4 linked regions of the Homo sapiens genome follow. The protein of the gene in region 3 interacts with the protein of the main gene of each other region in a pairwise test. Each region holds a gene or a part of one and is shown on either strand. Other genes may lie near its edges.

Region 1 (2,985 bases), on a different chromosome or scaffold from region 3:
CAGAACCAAACCATGAGCCAAAATAAACATATTTTCTCTACAAATCACCCAACTTTAGGTATTTCTTTATAGCAATGCAAGAATGGACTAATACGTCTACCTCTAGGTCTTTGTCCAAGCTTCCCAACTGATATGGAACTACCTGACTTCATCTGTCCATGCCATCCAACCCCTCCCTTCTTCAAGTGGCATCATGAAGCCACTTTCTCCAGCAAGATTCTAAAATTGGTCCAGTTGTATCCTAGTAACCTCCAGTGTTAGTTCTTAACCTCCATCCTCTTTCAGAATACCACTACATTTTGCAATGAATTGTCTGCTTTGTTAGACAGTAATCCCTGCAAACTCCTTTTGTAATATGTAACCCCAAGTGCCTTGTACAACGCTTTGCACTCAGTGAGCACTTATTATGAACCTGTGAACAAACTAACCATATGTAGAATACATATACCCAGATTCCAACAAGGGTTTACTGGGAAGAGAGAGGAAAACAACACAATAACTTTGTTCCACAATTCATTTACTGAATTGGGGCAGGTGATTTAACAATGGATTAGGAGATAAGGCTGGGAGAGAAGAGTTATTGCTTCCCCTCCCAGGAGCCAGTTGTGTCACAGATGCCTGTAAATGTTCCAAAACAGCCATCTGTTGTTGGGCGAGCTGGGTCTGAAGCTGGAGGTTTGCATACATACATTCCAGGAGTCCTAGGCATTCCTTGGGCTTGTGATCAACTCCAGAAGGAAAAGCAACGGAGGTGCAAGGGAACAAAGGAGAGAGATTTGGTAATTGTACTGAGGTTGGAAGGACCCTAATAAAATGACCTCTCCAATCTTTCCAGGCACAACCCAACCCAGACATACCTTTGCCCAGCTGTCACCTCCCAGTGAGGCATACCTGGCTATCCTATTTTAATTTGAAATCAATCACTGGAACTTATTACCCCCTCCCTTGTTTCACTTTTCCCATAATATTTATGGTCATATGGCATATTTTATAATTACTTAATTTTTGTCTAAGTCCCCCTTCTAGAACGTAAGCTCCAGGAAGGCAAGGATTTTTATCTGATTTGTTCACTACTTTAACCCTAGCACCTAGAAAAATGCCCAGCATATAACAAATATTTGATGAGTGAATGAAATGGTCTGGGAGGGAGGCCTACCTTCCCTAGAGCTCAGGGGATACCTCAGCCTCCTCTGTTACTTGACATAGTGTATCATTAGCAGTGACCTGAAGTTCCCTAACTTCAACCATTCTTGCTACATTGGTCCATTGTTTTTTTTCTTTTTCTTTTTTTTTTTTTTTTTTGGAGACGGAGTTTCACTTGTCACCCAGGCTAGAGTACAATGGTACGATCTCAGCTCACTGCAACCTCCACCTCCTGGGTTCAAGCAATTCTCCTGCCTCAACTTCCTGAGTAGCTGGGATTACAGTCATGTGCCACCATGCCTGGCTAAGTTTTGTATCATTAGTAGAGACGAGGTTTCACCACGTTGCCCAGGCTGGTCTCGAACTCCTGACCTCAGGTGATCCACCTGCCTTGGCCTTCCAAAGTGCTGGTATTACAAGTGTGAGCCACTGCACCTGGCCAGTCCATTCTTTTTCTAATATTTTTCTTTTTTCTTTTTTTTTTTTTCAATGGAGCCTTGCTCTGTCTCCCAGGATGCAGTGCAGCGGCACAATCCTGGCTCACTGCAACCTCCACCTCCCAGTTTAAGCAATTCTCCTGCCTCAGTCTCCCAAGTAGCTGGGATTACAGGCAGGTGCCACCATGCCCAGCTAATTTTTGTATTTTTAGTAGAGATGGGGTTTCACCATGTTGGTGAGGCTGGTCTCAAACTCCTGACCTCAGGTAATCCGCCCGCTTTGGCCTCCCAAAGTGCTGGGATTACAGGCATGAGCCACCGAGCCCTGCCAGTCCATTCTTTTGTTTGTTTTGAGATGGAGTTTCACTCTTGTTGCCCAGGCTGGAGTGCAATGGCCCAGTCTTGGCTCACTGCAACCTCCGCCTCCCAGGTTCAAGCAATTCTCCTGCCTCGGCCTCCTAAGCAGCTGAGATTACAGGCACCTGCCACCACGCCCAGCTTATTTTTGTATTTTTAGTAGAGACAGGGTTTCACCATGTCGGTCAGGCTGGTCTGAAGCTCCTGACCTCAGACAATCCACCTGCCTTGGCCTCCCAAAGTGCTGGGATTACAGGGATGAGCTACCGTGCCCAGCCACTTTTTCTAATATTTTACACAGCCAGTTAACCTTGGTAATTATATTATCTGCTGTTTGTATTTTTATCAGTCTTGACTTCTTTGTTGGACTCTGAGGTCCTCAAAAACAGGGGTTATGACTGTCTAGTTAGTGCCCTGTTGGGTTCCCCATAGCTATGCCAAATACCCACTGACCTCCCCAAGGGAAGATGAATGATGAAAATTCAAAGACCCTGAGACTGAGCTAATAGTTTCCTTCTCTAGCCACCGTTTTTTAAAATTTTACCTTCCCAAGTGAACAGGGGTAAACCTGGCCATCTTTTAACTAACATTACCAGTAAGCAATGAGAGGTTCACTTCACTCCTGCCTAGTCTAGCAAAAGTGCTAACAAGCAAGGAAACAATACAAGTTGGTAGAACTGGGATGATAATGATATCAATGAAACTAAATAATCAACAAGCTATCACGGAAAGATCTATAGATGCCTAACATAGATTTGGCTCTTGATCAATAGGCGACAGCTCAAGCCACCTCCTCCATGCAACCCTTCCCCCTGTTGAGTCCATTAGAAAACCCTCCCTACATCCTTACCCGAGGGCAGCTTTGTTGTCTGGATGTTCAGAAAAGTGGCTGGTGGGGAACTTGCTTGAAGATTAATATAGCTGGGGGAGGGTTTTGCTCTACAGAGAGGCACAGCATTAGCTTCCTCTTTGGCTGGAACTAAATCAGAGATAACTAAATCAGAGCTCATTCCAACAAGGGACAGCCTTTCTAATTAGATCCCTGCAC
Region 2 (3,500 bases), on a different chromosome or scaffold from region 3:
CTTCTCTTGAATATGATTCATTTTGGTGAATTTAATCCACAGGCTCCACAGTTTTACAAGTAAAGAAGATAATTATACTCTAGTTGTTGACATGAACTGCTTGGATGTTCAGGGTTGTGGTGATGACGTGAACAACAGACTTCTTCACTCTGCAAGTTACCCAACAGCAAGCTGGGTGGATGAAGCCATGCCAACAGCATCTGGCAGGAGCCAGCACCAAGCACACCTTACACAGCTTCGACAGAGCTGCACGGAGAACACATATGCTTGGTCAGCTCAAATGGTGTCCTACTTTTCCTGCTGCATGATCCACAACAATCTGTGTTCTGTTGTTGTCTGTTTGTTTTTCTTGCTTGGTTTACAATTTCTTAAGGAACTTAACCTGGAAAACAAGCCCGGTCATGTGGGCCTCTGCCATGCCAGAACACTATAGGCAGCCGACTCTGGAGACAATTTAGCAGATGGATGAAGCTACAATTATTATTGGAAGCTTTTTAACTCCATTGACACTCACTGACTTTAAGTATCTGAAAGCACTTAATCCCTCAGAATTTGAAAGCAGATGGAAGTCAGTCCCTCCCGGAATCACCTCTCTCTCTCCCGGCTTCCTTCCCCTCCCTACTCCCTCTTCCCTCCCTCTAGCTCCCTCTGTCTCTCATACAAAGTACCTTATAGTGTGAGCTCCAGACACACAGACACTGCCATCCTGCCTACAAAGAAAGGAATGCAGACACAGCCAACGTCAGCATTCGGGGTGGGACCACAGTGGAACGCATACATCCTTTCACAGCTGCCAAGGCCTTCTGGGAAGTCCAATGCCTGCCCCCACATCTCTCAGAGCCAAACATCTTCTTCTGGTCAGGAAACCCTGTTCAGAGTGCACAGAGAGCCAGCTCCTCCCTTCTCTGCTGAAATCCTGGGCTCCTGAGGTCAAACAGAATGTTGTCCAAGCCACCTATTTTAGAGATGGGAAAACAGAGGCCCTGGGCAGGGCCCTGGACTTGTCCGGATCAATCAAAACTAGCATCCAAGTCTCCTGGCTGCGAGACAGTTGCTTCTTTTGTCTACTTCTGGCCAGAGTAGCCTCCTCAGTAGCCAAACATTTCCTCCATCCCCCCAGCGGGGATGTCACCTGTCAGAATGGGAAAAGGGTAGGGTTCCCACCTTACTCTGTTTCTCCCCTAAGCCCATCTCTCCCTGCTGGGAAGGCCCATGGTATTCTATCCCCGCCTCTCTCAGAGGGCGTGCAACTTTGTGTCCTAAGTTGATTATTTTCCTTTCACATTGGTTGGTAGTGGCAGTGAAGGACACAGACTCTAAAGCCAGGCTATCTGGTTCCAATCACCAGCTATGTGACTTGGACAAATAATGCTCTCTTCTGTGCTTCTGTTTTCTTCTCTGTAAGTACAGATAATAACTGCACCTACTCCATGTAGGGATCTCTGTGAGCATGCAGTGAGTTAATACACGTACATACGGTATTTAGAACAGCACTGGTCACATAGTAAGCACCGGCCGTGACCTACAAGAGGGCAGCCTAGGCCAGCATTTCCATCTGTCATCTTCAAGGCCAGCACTGATGACAAGGGAGGGCGACCATCTGGTGAGTCACCGTATCTCCAGCACATAGAGGGTGCTCGATAGGAACCGTCGAATGAATGAATCTGGCCGGGTGCACTGCGTATAGCAGGTGCTTCATCATGTCCACTGATACGTGGATTTCCATAATTCACAGGCTCACTTAGGGAATGTCACTTACCAAGTTTATTGGTGAATAAATTCAACTTTCCATCACCAATAGTTTCTGTTGCTCTAAGGCATTTATCTTCGCTGCTGTCTTTAAAAGGTTAACCAGAGCCCAGCTGTCAATGTCAAAAGCATTGCCTGTGCGACCACTTGGTACTTAATCACCTACTGCTTGACATTTTCTTGGTTTTATCCAGGCTTTGAAAAACAAAGTTCCCAAAACACTGCACTTGATATTCATCTCTGAGGGGCCAGTGAATAAAAATATCTTAATGAAGAAAGCCAGCAGAAAACAACAGAGCCTTGAAGTGGAAACCGGTTTCCTGGAACTCCACTCTGCGAGAGGGCTGAAGTGTTTATGCAGAGGAAAGTGCCACAGAAGTGGCCGATCTGGAAGCTGGAGGACATCTGGATATGGCATTTAGGACTGACACAGAAAGTGTCTGGGGCTTATCAAGTGAAAAGCACTCCACAAGAACAAAATATATTAGTCACCACCAAAGTGGGAGTTGAAACCGGGCCCACAGCAAATAAACACTCTGCTGATCGCTGGCCAAAATGCTTAGCTGAAGACGTTTATTAACCCCATTGAACATGTATACAGAGTCAGCAAGCATCTAGGACACAAACCTGTCACAGAGCTAAGTGGGAGAGTACCCAGGGATTTATGTGTGGTGACCCTGAGTGGCATTAAGAGGTTGAGAAGATGATAGAGCCATAACCCCTAAAGCATCTGCCCCAGACACTGCACCCCTTGGGCCAGGACTGCTCTCTTCCCTCACTAAGTGAGGTCCCATGTTAAGCAGAAGGCCTGCCCAACCAGCCGAGATACACCTGGCCTGCAACACATCTGGCACTGCAACCTCATGACCGCTTCACAGCAAGGAAGGAGAAACAGGGTCAGTGCAGATGCCTGGAAGCAGCCAGCATGCAGTGCTAAGGATGTGGGTCCCACACAGTGGAGGCTTTTCCTGTGACCTGAAAACACCCAATAAAGAATTTTGTTTTTACCAAACCCTGGGTCTCTCAAGTGCACACAAATGATGAATTCAGATTTTCAAAGGTGAACAGAGCTGGGAAGGCACCCTCTTTGGGATTTCTGGGCAACAGCTAGGCGGAGCAGAACAGACTAGCGTGAAAAACTGACAGCCCTTCCCATAGCCAGGGGGCCCTGACATTTGGTGCCTACAGATTCTGACCCCCTGACCTGTACATGCCCAACCTCCCTCCACTCTTCGGGGTCTTTTGTTCCTGTTTCTAAAGAGCCAGGAAGGACTGGACTCCACCCTAGTCCATCCACTGAAGCTCCTGATGAAGGATGCCGGGTGCCTAGGAGGCCCATATGCATTTACACTCATCTGTCCCAGAAAACTACAGAGCATGTGCCGTGGGCTGGGCAGGCCTGGTTCCAAATCCTGCCTCTGCCTTCTTTCACTTTGTTTTGAGCCTCAGTTCCCTCATCTGGAGATTGAAAACTAGACACTCCAGAATTGTTTCACACACTAAGACAAGGTTTATATAGCTTAAGAAGTAGAGATTGTTCATTATCTGAATAAATAGAAGTGACTAATGATCTTTTTCTTGTATATTATGAATGACAGGAAAAAGTCAGGAGGGGAAATTCCTCCAAAGCTTCCCTCCGCACTTCAGAATAAAATCCCAAATCCTTACCCAGCCCAGGAGGCCCTACTTGGCCTGAGTGTGTCTCATTATTTAGCTCTGTACCCTCCTGGGCTTGGGCCTTACCACACCAG
Region 3 (5,271 bases):
TGGCCTAGCATCACTGTGCTTTTTTTTTTAGACTCAGTCTCCCTCTGTCACCCAGGCTGGAGTGCAGTAGCGCGATCTTGGCTCACTGCAAGCTCCGCCTCCCAGGTTCATGCCATTCTCCTGCCTCAGTCTCCTGAGTAGCTGGGACTACAGGCGCCTGCCACCACGCCTGGCTAATTTTTCTTTGTATTTTTAGTAGAGATGGGGTTTCGCCATGTTAGCCAGGATGATCTCGATCTCCTGACCTCATGATCCACCCACCTTCGCCTCCCAAAGTGCTGGGATTACAGGTGTGAGCCACTGCACCCAGCCAAGCAGTCCCTTCTTTAAGCCAATTAATTATAGCTTTTTCATATATTTTGGTAGTGAAATATCACATACACATGACACATATAAACATATAGACATACAGACAGAAGCAGATCTTATAGTTTTTATAAAGAATCTTCTCTCCAATTCCCCATTTCTACCAAAGAGAAATCTTAGCAAGACCAACTAACTTGTAAAGTAAGTTTTAGCATTAATACTTAACCTGATTATGCTCTCAAATAGTTTTTATTTCCCCCTTTTACATGATCCCTAAGCAACTGTTAGCTAGGCAACACTAAATTGGCACTTCTAAAGGGATGACTGAGGTGAAACAAAGTAGAAAAAATTCACATCTCAAAAGCACAGAGCTGAATTCAAACCAAGGAAGAAGGGTGTAGGTAAAAGCCTAGTTGTGGGCGGCAAACCACCTACGTGCCGAGGCAAGAGACCGAGGGCACGAGCTTTTCCAGTATAATAAAATATATAAAACAACAAGAGTTATACTAGATCTAGATCATAGACATGATTATATATGAAAATCATTAATCATTAGTTTGTAGCAATTACTCTTTATTCCAATATTACAATAATCCTCGCTCTACAATCATAACCTAGGAAAAACCAGGCCATACAGACACAGGAGCTGAGGGGACATAGTGAGAAGTGACCAGAAGACAAGCATGCGAGCCTTCTGTTATGCCCGGACAGGGCCACCAGAGGGCTCCTTGGTCTAGCGGTAACGCCAGCGTCTGGGAAGACGCCTGTTGTCAAGCGGACCATGGTCTAGCAGTAGCGTCAGTGTCAAGGAAAAACACCGGCTACTTAGCAGACCGGGAAAGGGAGTCTCCCTTTCCCCACGGGAGTTCAGAGAAGACTCTACTCCTCCATCTCTTGTGGAGGGCCTCAGGCCCACCTTCAGTTATCCGAAGGCATACCATCTCCCTGTGACGCTGTGCTTCAGTGGTCACACTCCTAGTCCGCCTTCGTGTTCCATCCTGTACACCTGGCTCTGCCTTCTAGATAGCAGTAGCAAATTAGTGAAAGTACTAAAAGTCTCTGATATGCAGAAATAATGGCGCAAGCTGTCTCTCTCTCTCCCCCTCTCTGCCTTGGCTGCCAGGCAGGGAAGGGCCCCCTGTCCAGTGGACACGTGACCCACGTGACCCTACCTATCATTGGAGATGACTCACACTCTTTACCCTGCCCCTTTTGCTTTGTATCCAATAAATAACAACGCAGCCAGACATTCGGGGCCATTACCGGTCTCCGCATCTTGGTGTTAGTGGTCCCCCAGGCCCACCTGTCTTTCCTTTTATCTCTTTGTCTTGTGTCTTTATTTCTACAATCTCTCGTCTCTGCACATGGGGAGAAAAACCCACCGATCCTGTGGGGCTGGTCCCTACACCTAGTGAAGACGAGGTTGCCAGGAAAAGTATTTCCACCGAAGGCAAGGTCTGTGATGTAAACTGTAAGACAGTGTCTTCAGCCAATGTCTTCCCCATCTTCAGTTTCTAGCAGTTTGGGTGCAGGGAGGGAGACACCCTTACAAATGGAGATTTCCTTCATATATATAAATTTTTTTTACAAAGAGTTTCAAAATAGCCAGCTAAATGCTAGAAAGCCATATTTTGGATATCAAAGTTACACAAGGGTCTGCATTAGTTAGGGTTCTCCAGAGGGGCAGAACTAACAGAATAGACATATATATGAAAGGGAGTATATTAGGGAGAACTAGTTCACACCATCACAGGGTGAAGTCCCATGATACACCGTCTGCAAGCTGCAGAAGAAGGAAGCCAGGAGTGGCTCAGTCGGAGTCCAAAAGCCTCAAAAGTAGGGAAGCCAACAGTGCAGGCTTCAATCTGTGGCTGAAGGCCCGAGAGTCCCAAGCAAACCACTGGCTTAAGTCCAAGAGTCCAAAGGCCAAAGAACCTGGAGTCTGATGTCCAAGGGCAGGGGGAACGGAGGAGGCATCCAGCACAGGAGAAAGATGAAAGTGAAACTGCCTCTGCAAAAATTACAACTGAGGAAATGATGACAGTGAAAGAGATCAGACCTACCTGACTCCATCTTGCTTCTAACCTTTAGGCTGTCTTTGTTCATGCCTGGGCACAGGCCAACTAACCTTGGGAAGGAATTTAGCTTATAGTTTGACTCTGAAACAAAATTGATAATAGCCATTTCCCAGAAAGATCCCCTTCTTGCCTAGGAACCAGTCTGCCTTTGTAGGAGTAACAAATTAGCTACAAGATTAGAAATTTTAAGGCCCAAGGTGGCTGCCTTCACGTTAGTACCCGTGTGAAGTCGACAGGGACGGTTCCTGTTGTCTTCTTGAAGGCCACATCTGGTCCTCATTCTTGGGCTTATTTGGTGTGCTGTTGAAGGGGCAGACTAGAGAAATGGCAGGGAGCCTCTTATGTAGGGCAGGTAGGCGCCTGTGGGACTAGGTGTGGCATGCAGAAGCTTCTTTCTTGGTATTCCTAGATTGATTGGTATAAGGCTCCTACCCCCCAAAGTAGTTGATCCTTGGAACGAAAGGATGGCCATGTTCAGAGTGTATGACAACATCAGGATCCTGGGAAACTTTGAAAAGCACCCCAAAAGCTGATCAGGGACCCCATATGGCTTCGAGATTGGAAGGGGAATGAATTGCAACGCTGTATGCTAAAGAAGAAAATGGTTGGAAACAGAATGTTTGCTGATGAGCTGCACAACCTCAATAAACGCATCAGCTGTCTCTACAAACACTTTAACTGACATGGGAAATATCGATAGAAGAGAAAGCTGAGAACTTCAGAAAAGGCTCATCTGTCACCCTGGAGAAGGGAAGCTGTACTTTTCCTTATGAGGAAACGGCTTTGTATGCTCTCTGTAATAAAATGGGGCTTCTTTGAAAAAAAAAAAAAGAAATTTTGATTTAAAGGTCATCCAGCCTCTGGCTGTCCAAACCTCCCGAAATTGCTCCTGGGGATAACATCACCATTGTAATCCGAAGATCAGTGCTTGAGGTATTTATTCTGCAAGACCCTGTACTCTATGGATCAGCTGATACCACACAGACCGGCTATCTGGCTCAGCCAGTTCTGCCATTGTACCCAGGAACAGAAGACAGCAAGGAAACCTCACTTTGACCTCCCTGTGATTCCATCTCCAGCCAGATCAATCAGCACTCCTACTTCCTGAGCCGCCAAATTATCTTTAAAAACTCTGATCTGCAAATTCTTGGGATGTCTAATTTGAGTAATAATAAAACTCCAGTCGCCCGCACAGCTAGCTCTGTGTAAATTACTCGTTCTGCATTGCAATTCCCCTGTCCTGATAAATCCGCTCCATCTAGGCAGCCGGCTAGGTGAACTCACTGGGTGGCTACAAAAGCCAGAAGACTCAGCAAGCCAGCTTCTCCCACCCTCCTCCACCTGCTTTGTTCCAGCCACACTGTCAGCCAATCGGATGGTGCCCACCCACACTGAGGGTGGGTCTTCCTCTCTCAGTCCACTGACTCCAATGTCAATTTCCTCTGGCAACACCCTCACAACACACCCAAGAACAATACTTTACCATCCTTCAATCCAATCAGGTTGACAGCTAATATTAACCATCACAGGGTCTTTTCAACTTAGCTTGTTTCTCTATTAGATTACTGACTTCAGGGTGAAGCCCTTTAATGAATAGGGCAAAGGAGGCATTCTCTATGCCTGGAATCAGCATGGATAGCTCTGAAAAGAAGCAAGCCTACTTTACCTGCTTGAGGGCCTACTTTTAACTTTTTATAAACACTTTATCCAACTTATTACATATAAAAAAAGAAAAAACTTGGCCGGGTGCGGTGGCTCATGTCTGTAATCCCAGCACTTTGGGAGGCCAAGGTGGGTGGATCACCTGAGATCAGGAGTTCAAGACCAGCCTGGCCAACATGGTGAAACTTTGTCTCTACTAAAAATACAAAATTAGCCAGGTGTGGTGGTGCATGCATGTAATCCCAGCTACTTGGGAGGCTGAGGCAGGAGGACCGCTTGAACCTGGCAGGCCGAAGTTGCAGTGAGCCGAGATCAGGCCATCCCTTACACTCCAGCCTGGGCAATGAGAGCGAAACTCCATCTCAAAAAAAAAAACGAAATGGACATTTTCAAGTTACTCACAAAACCAGTGAGACTTAACCAAGGTAAATTAGCCAGGTGTGGTGGCATGCACCTGTCATCCCAGCTACTCGGGAGGCTAAGGCAGGAGAATTGCTTCAACCCAGGAGACAGAGGTTGCAGTGAGCCAAGATCGCACCACTGCACTCCAGCTTGGGTGACACAGCGAGACTCCATCTCAAAAACAAAGATTTAACCAAGGTAATGGCATAACGAAGGTCATGACTTAACCAAGGCTGAACCAAGCATCTCCAAAGAAATGCAAAGCAGTCTTCCTAAGCGTCAGAACCACTCTAAAGACAGCTCAGAAAAAGAAATCTTGCTGCTCACACCTGTAATCCCAGCACTTTGGGAAGCTGAGGTGGGTGGATCACTTGACGTCAGGAGTTCGAGACCAGCCTGGCCAACATGGTGAAACCCCATCTCTACTAAAAACACAAAAATTAGCCAGGCGTGGTGGTGAGCACCTGTAATCCCACCTACTTGGGAGGCTGAGGCAGAAGAATTGACTGAACCTGAGAGGTGGAGGTTGCAGTGAGCTTAGACCATGCCATTGCACTCCAGCCTGGGTGACGAGAGCGAAACTCCATCTCAAAAAAAAAAAAAAAAAAAAAAGAAGGCCAGGCGCGGTGGCTCACACCTGTAATCCCAGCACTTTGGGAGGCCGAGGCAGGCAGATCACCTGAGGTCAGGAGTTCAAGACCAGCCTGGCCAACATGGTGAAACCCTGTCTGTACTAAAAATACAAAAAATTAGCTGGGCGTGGTGGTGGGCACCTATAATCCCAGCTACTCGGGAGGCTGAGGCAGGAGAACTGCTGGAACCT
Region 4 (3,500 bases), on a different chromosome or scaffold from region 3:
GCACGGTGGCTCACTGTCATCCCACACTTTGGGAAGCCAAGGCAGGCAGATCACGAGGTCAGGAGTTTGAGACCGGCCCGGCCAGCGTGATGAAACGCCATCTCTACTAAAAATACAAAAACTAGCTGGGCGTGGTGGCGCCCGCCTGTAGTCCCAGCTACTTGGGTGGCTGAGGCAGGAGAATTGCTTGAACCTGGGAGGCGGAGGTTGCGGCGAGCCGAGATCGTACCATTGCAGTCCAACCTGGGCGACAGAGCGAGACTCGGTCTGCGGCGTGGGGGAACCTGTGAGCAGCAGGTCATGTGGTTTGCCACCACAGATAGGGCACAAGGTTCCGTGTGAGGCCCCTCAGTCAGGACGGCATCTGGGAGGGAGCCCCACGGAGGCTTCACGGCAACGCCAGCATGGAGGGAGCCGGCACTCACCTAGGGGGCTGTAGGATGAGGCTGCAGAGCCCAGTGTGCCCGGCTCTGAACGCAGGGGTGGCGGCTGCTGGGGAGGCGTCATGGCTGAGGAGCCCACCGGCCCTGGGAGGGGCTGGGACAGCGAACCGAGCGGCGAGGTGGACGCAGAGGATGGCGAGTGTAGCGATGGTGCTCTGGGCAGGGAGCCGGGGATGGCGACAGGTGCAGAGCCGGCCAGCGACCTGGGACCTGGCGGGGGCGGACCAGTCAGCGAAGGGAGTACCGCCAGGCCTCTGCCCAAACATCTGCCATGGGCGGCAGCCGTGGAAGACGGACCCTGCAGGTGGTGGTGGTGGGGATATGGGGGGTGGGAATATAGGGGCCAGGCCAGCCACCACCATCTATGTGTTTGGAGCCACAGCGCCCCCGGTGGCCATGTCCAACACAGCTGGGCAAGCCATGGGCTCAAAGGGATTCCAACCAGAGGTGGGGAGACGGGGGTTTAACATGGGCCCCCCCCAAAGAGGCCGGACACCCACCAGGCCCTGCCGGCCAACTAAGCCATTGGCACGGTCCTCCCAGCACTTGTCCAGGCCCCCTGAAATGGTTTACTTTCTTTTAAAAGAAAGAAAAGATACACTTTTAGGCTGAATGAAAAGATGTTGTATACGATGTTAAGATACATTTGTATGGGGCCGGGCGCACTGGCTCACGCCTGTAATCCCAGCACTTTGGGAGGCCAAGGCGGGCAGATCACGGGGTCAGGAGATGGAGACCATCCTGGCTAACATGGTGAAACCCCGTCTCTATTAAAAATACAAAAAATTAGCTGGGCGTGGTGGCGGGCACCTGTAGTCCCAGCTACTCCGGAGGCTGAGGCAGGAGAATGGCGTGAACCCGGGAGGTGGAGCTTGCAGTGAGCGGAGATCGCGCCACTGCACTCCAGCCTGGGCGACAGAGCGAGGCTCTGTCTCAAAAAAAAAAAAAAAAAAAAAGATACATTTGTATGGATGTCAATCTTTTGTCTACAATGTGAATACATTTATCCTTCGGGGACCATCAAGACTTTCAGGAAAGGCCCCGCCTGTCTCTGCGCGGCCACTTTGCTGGGACAAAGGTCAACTGAAGAAGTGGGCAGGCCCGAGGCAGGAGAGATGCTGAGGAGTCCATGTGCAGGGGAGGGAAAGGGAGAGGCAGTCAGGGAGAGGAGGAGGAGGTACCGCCAGAAGGGGATCCTCCCGCTCCGAAAACCAGACACCGGGTCTTGCCCTGTGGTCCAGGCAGGAGTGCAGTGGTGCAACCTCAGCTCACTGCAGCCTTGACCTCCCCGGGCTCAAGCGATCCTCCGGCCACAGCACTTGGCTGTTCAGCGGCTGGAGGAGCAGGGCCCCAGGTCCTCCCCACCCTCACCTGCTGCTCCCAGGTCGTGGCCGTCTTGCTCTTCCAGGTCCTTCTCTAGGGATGCAATATTCACATTGCTAAGATGCAGGTCTAACGCAGAACCTGTCAACAGAGCCCCCCATCATCCACAGCCCACCCAGCGCTGCAGAGCTCAGGAAGCCTAGCTGAGGAGGACGACCGTCCCACCTGGGCTTAGAGTGAGACCAAGGGCAGAAGGCGTGGGAGTTGCTGGGGCAGCCAGGGAAGGACACCCCCAGCCCGTCCTCGCAGCCCCCCACAGGCAGTGTGAGGCTTGGCTGTTCCTCCGGCAAAACGAGCGTGCTCAGGTGGGACGCCCCGCACCACAGACCAGCAGCTGGGTCCTCGCCTCTGACACGCTGCTGCTGCCCCTCAGAGTTTAAATACCTAAGTGTGTGTTAGCATCTGTCCACGTGTGCACATTCGACTGTTTAAAAAACTTTCCAGGGCCGGGTGCGGTGGCTCACACCTGTAATCCCAGCACTTTGGGAGGCCGAGGTGGGCAGATCACAAGGTCAGGAGATCGAGACCATCCTGGCTAACACGGTGAAACCCCGTCTCAACCAAAAAAAAAAAAATACAAAAAATTAGCCAGGCGTGGTGGCGGGTGCCTGTAGTCCCAGCTACTCGGGAGGCTGAGGCGGAAGAATGGTGTGAACCCCAGAGGCGGAGCTTGCAGTGAGCCGAGATCGTGCCACTGCCCTCCAGCCTGGACGACAGAGCAAGATTCCATCTCAAAAAAAACAAAAACAAAAACAAAAAAAAAACTTTCTGTGAGGGTGATTTCAAGGAGCAGGTGTTCACGTGCAATTTCATGCCAAGCACCAAGACCTCAATTCCCAAGGCTCAAGACTGAGTGGGAAGGACCCGCCTCAGAGTGGCCTCACCCAGCCAGCCCTGCCTTCCAAGGCTGTCCCCACACATCCCTGCAGGCCGTGGGGCTGCCCTCCTGCACGGGCCCTTCCCTCCCAAGTCCCCACCCCCAACCCCGAATGGCAAGCAGGGACCCCACTGCCCCTTCCTAGAATTAGGAAGCCATCATGAGGAGGCTGAGCTCAGGCCACCAGCCCCTGAAGCCACAGCGTGTCTCAAACTCCCGCAGCCACTGCACAGAAGTTGGGTTGGGGGTGAGGGGTGACCAGAGGATCTGGGATCTGAGAGCCCACGTGCCACCTGGGGCAGACCAGAGGACCGCAGCGGCTGCAGGAGCTCTGGGATACACCCTGTGGGCCGGCGCCGCCTCCCCAGCCCAGCCCAGTGTTGTGGCCAACACCGCACAGAGACCTCAGCAGCGTGGGGCACACCGCACAGGGACTGCCGGCCTACACTGCACAGAGACCTCAGCAGCGTGGAGCACACCACACAGGGACTGCCGGCCAACACCGCACAGAGACCTCAGCAGCGTGGGGCACACCACACAGGGACTGCCGGCCAACACCGCACAGAGACCTCAGCAGCGTGGGGCACACCACACAGGGACTGCCGGCCAACACCGCAGAGACCTCAGCAGCGTGGAGCACACCACACAGGGACTGCCGGCCTACACCGCACAGAGACCTCAGCAGCATGGAACACACCACACAGGGACTGCCGGCCAACACCGCACAGAGACCTCAGCAGCATGGAACACACCGCACAGGGACTGCCGGCCAACACCGCACAGAGACCTCAGCAGCA

Evidence for each region.
Region 1: the proteins of alpha-crystallin A2 chain (region 3) and TSACC interact in binary tests that used the Homo sapiens proteins (3 or more experiments, as listed by UniProt).
Region 2: the proteins of alpha-crystallin A2 chain (region 3) and NOD1 interact in binary tests that used the Homo sapiens proteins (3 or more experiments, as listed by UniProt).
Region 4: the proteins of alpha-crystallin A2 chain (region 3) and UNKL interact in binary tests that used the Homo sapiens proteins (3 or more experiments, as listed by UniProt).

What each region holds. Positions count from the first base shown.
Region 1 is NC_000001.11:156,344,511-156,347,495, reverse strand, and holds the end of TSACC (TSSK6-activating co-chaperone protein), read right to left. Parts: intron 2,917-2,985; coding exon 2,788-2,916; intron 729-2,787; coding exon 514-728; 3' UTR 501-513; downstream 1-500.
Region 2 is NC_000007.14:30,468,785-30,472,284, forward strand, and holds part of NOD1 (nucleotide-binding oligomerization domain-containing protein 1), read right to left. Parts: intron 1-3,500. UniProt on the Homo sapiens protein: Pattern recognition receptor (PRR) that detects bacterial peptidoglycan fragments and other danger signals and thus participates in both innate and adaptive immune responses.
Region 3 is NC_000021.9:6,504,827-6,510,097, reverse strand, and holds part of alpha-crystallin A2 chain, read right to left. Parts: intron 3,296-5,271; exon of another isoform or gene 2,709-3,295; intron 1-2,708. UniProt on the Homo sapiens protein: Contributes to the transparency and refractive index of the lens. In its oxidized form (absence of intramolecular disulfide bond), acts as a chaperone, preventing aggregation of various proteins under a wide range of stress conditions.
Region 4 is NC_000016.10:1,369,705-1,373,204, forward strand, and holds part of UNKL (putative E3 ubiquitin-protein ligase UNKL), read right to left. Parts: intron 1,908-3,500; coding exon 1,815-1,907; intron 654-1,814; coding exon 426-653; exon of another isoform or gene 303-425; coding exon of another isoform or gene 230-302; intron 1-229. UniProt on the Homo sapiens protein: May participate in a protein complex showing an E3 ligase activity regulated by RAC1. Ubiquitination is directed towards itself and possibly other substrates, such as SMARCD2/BAF60b. Intrinsic E3 ligase activity has not been proven.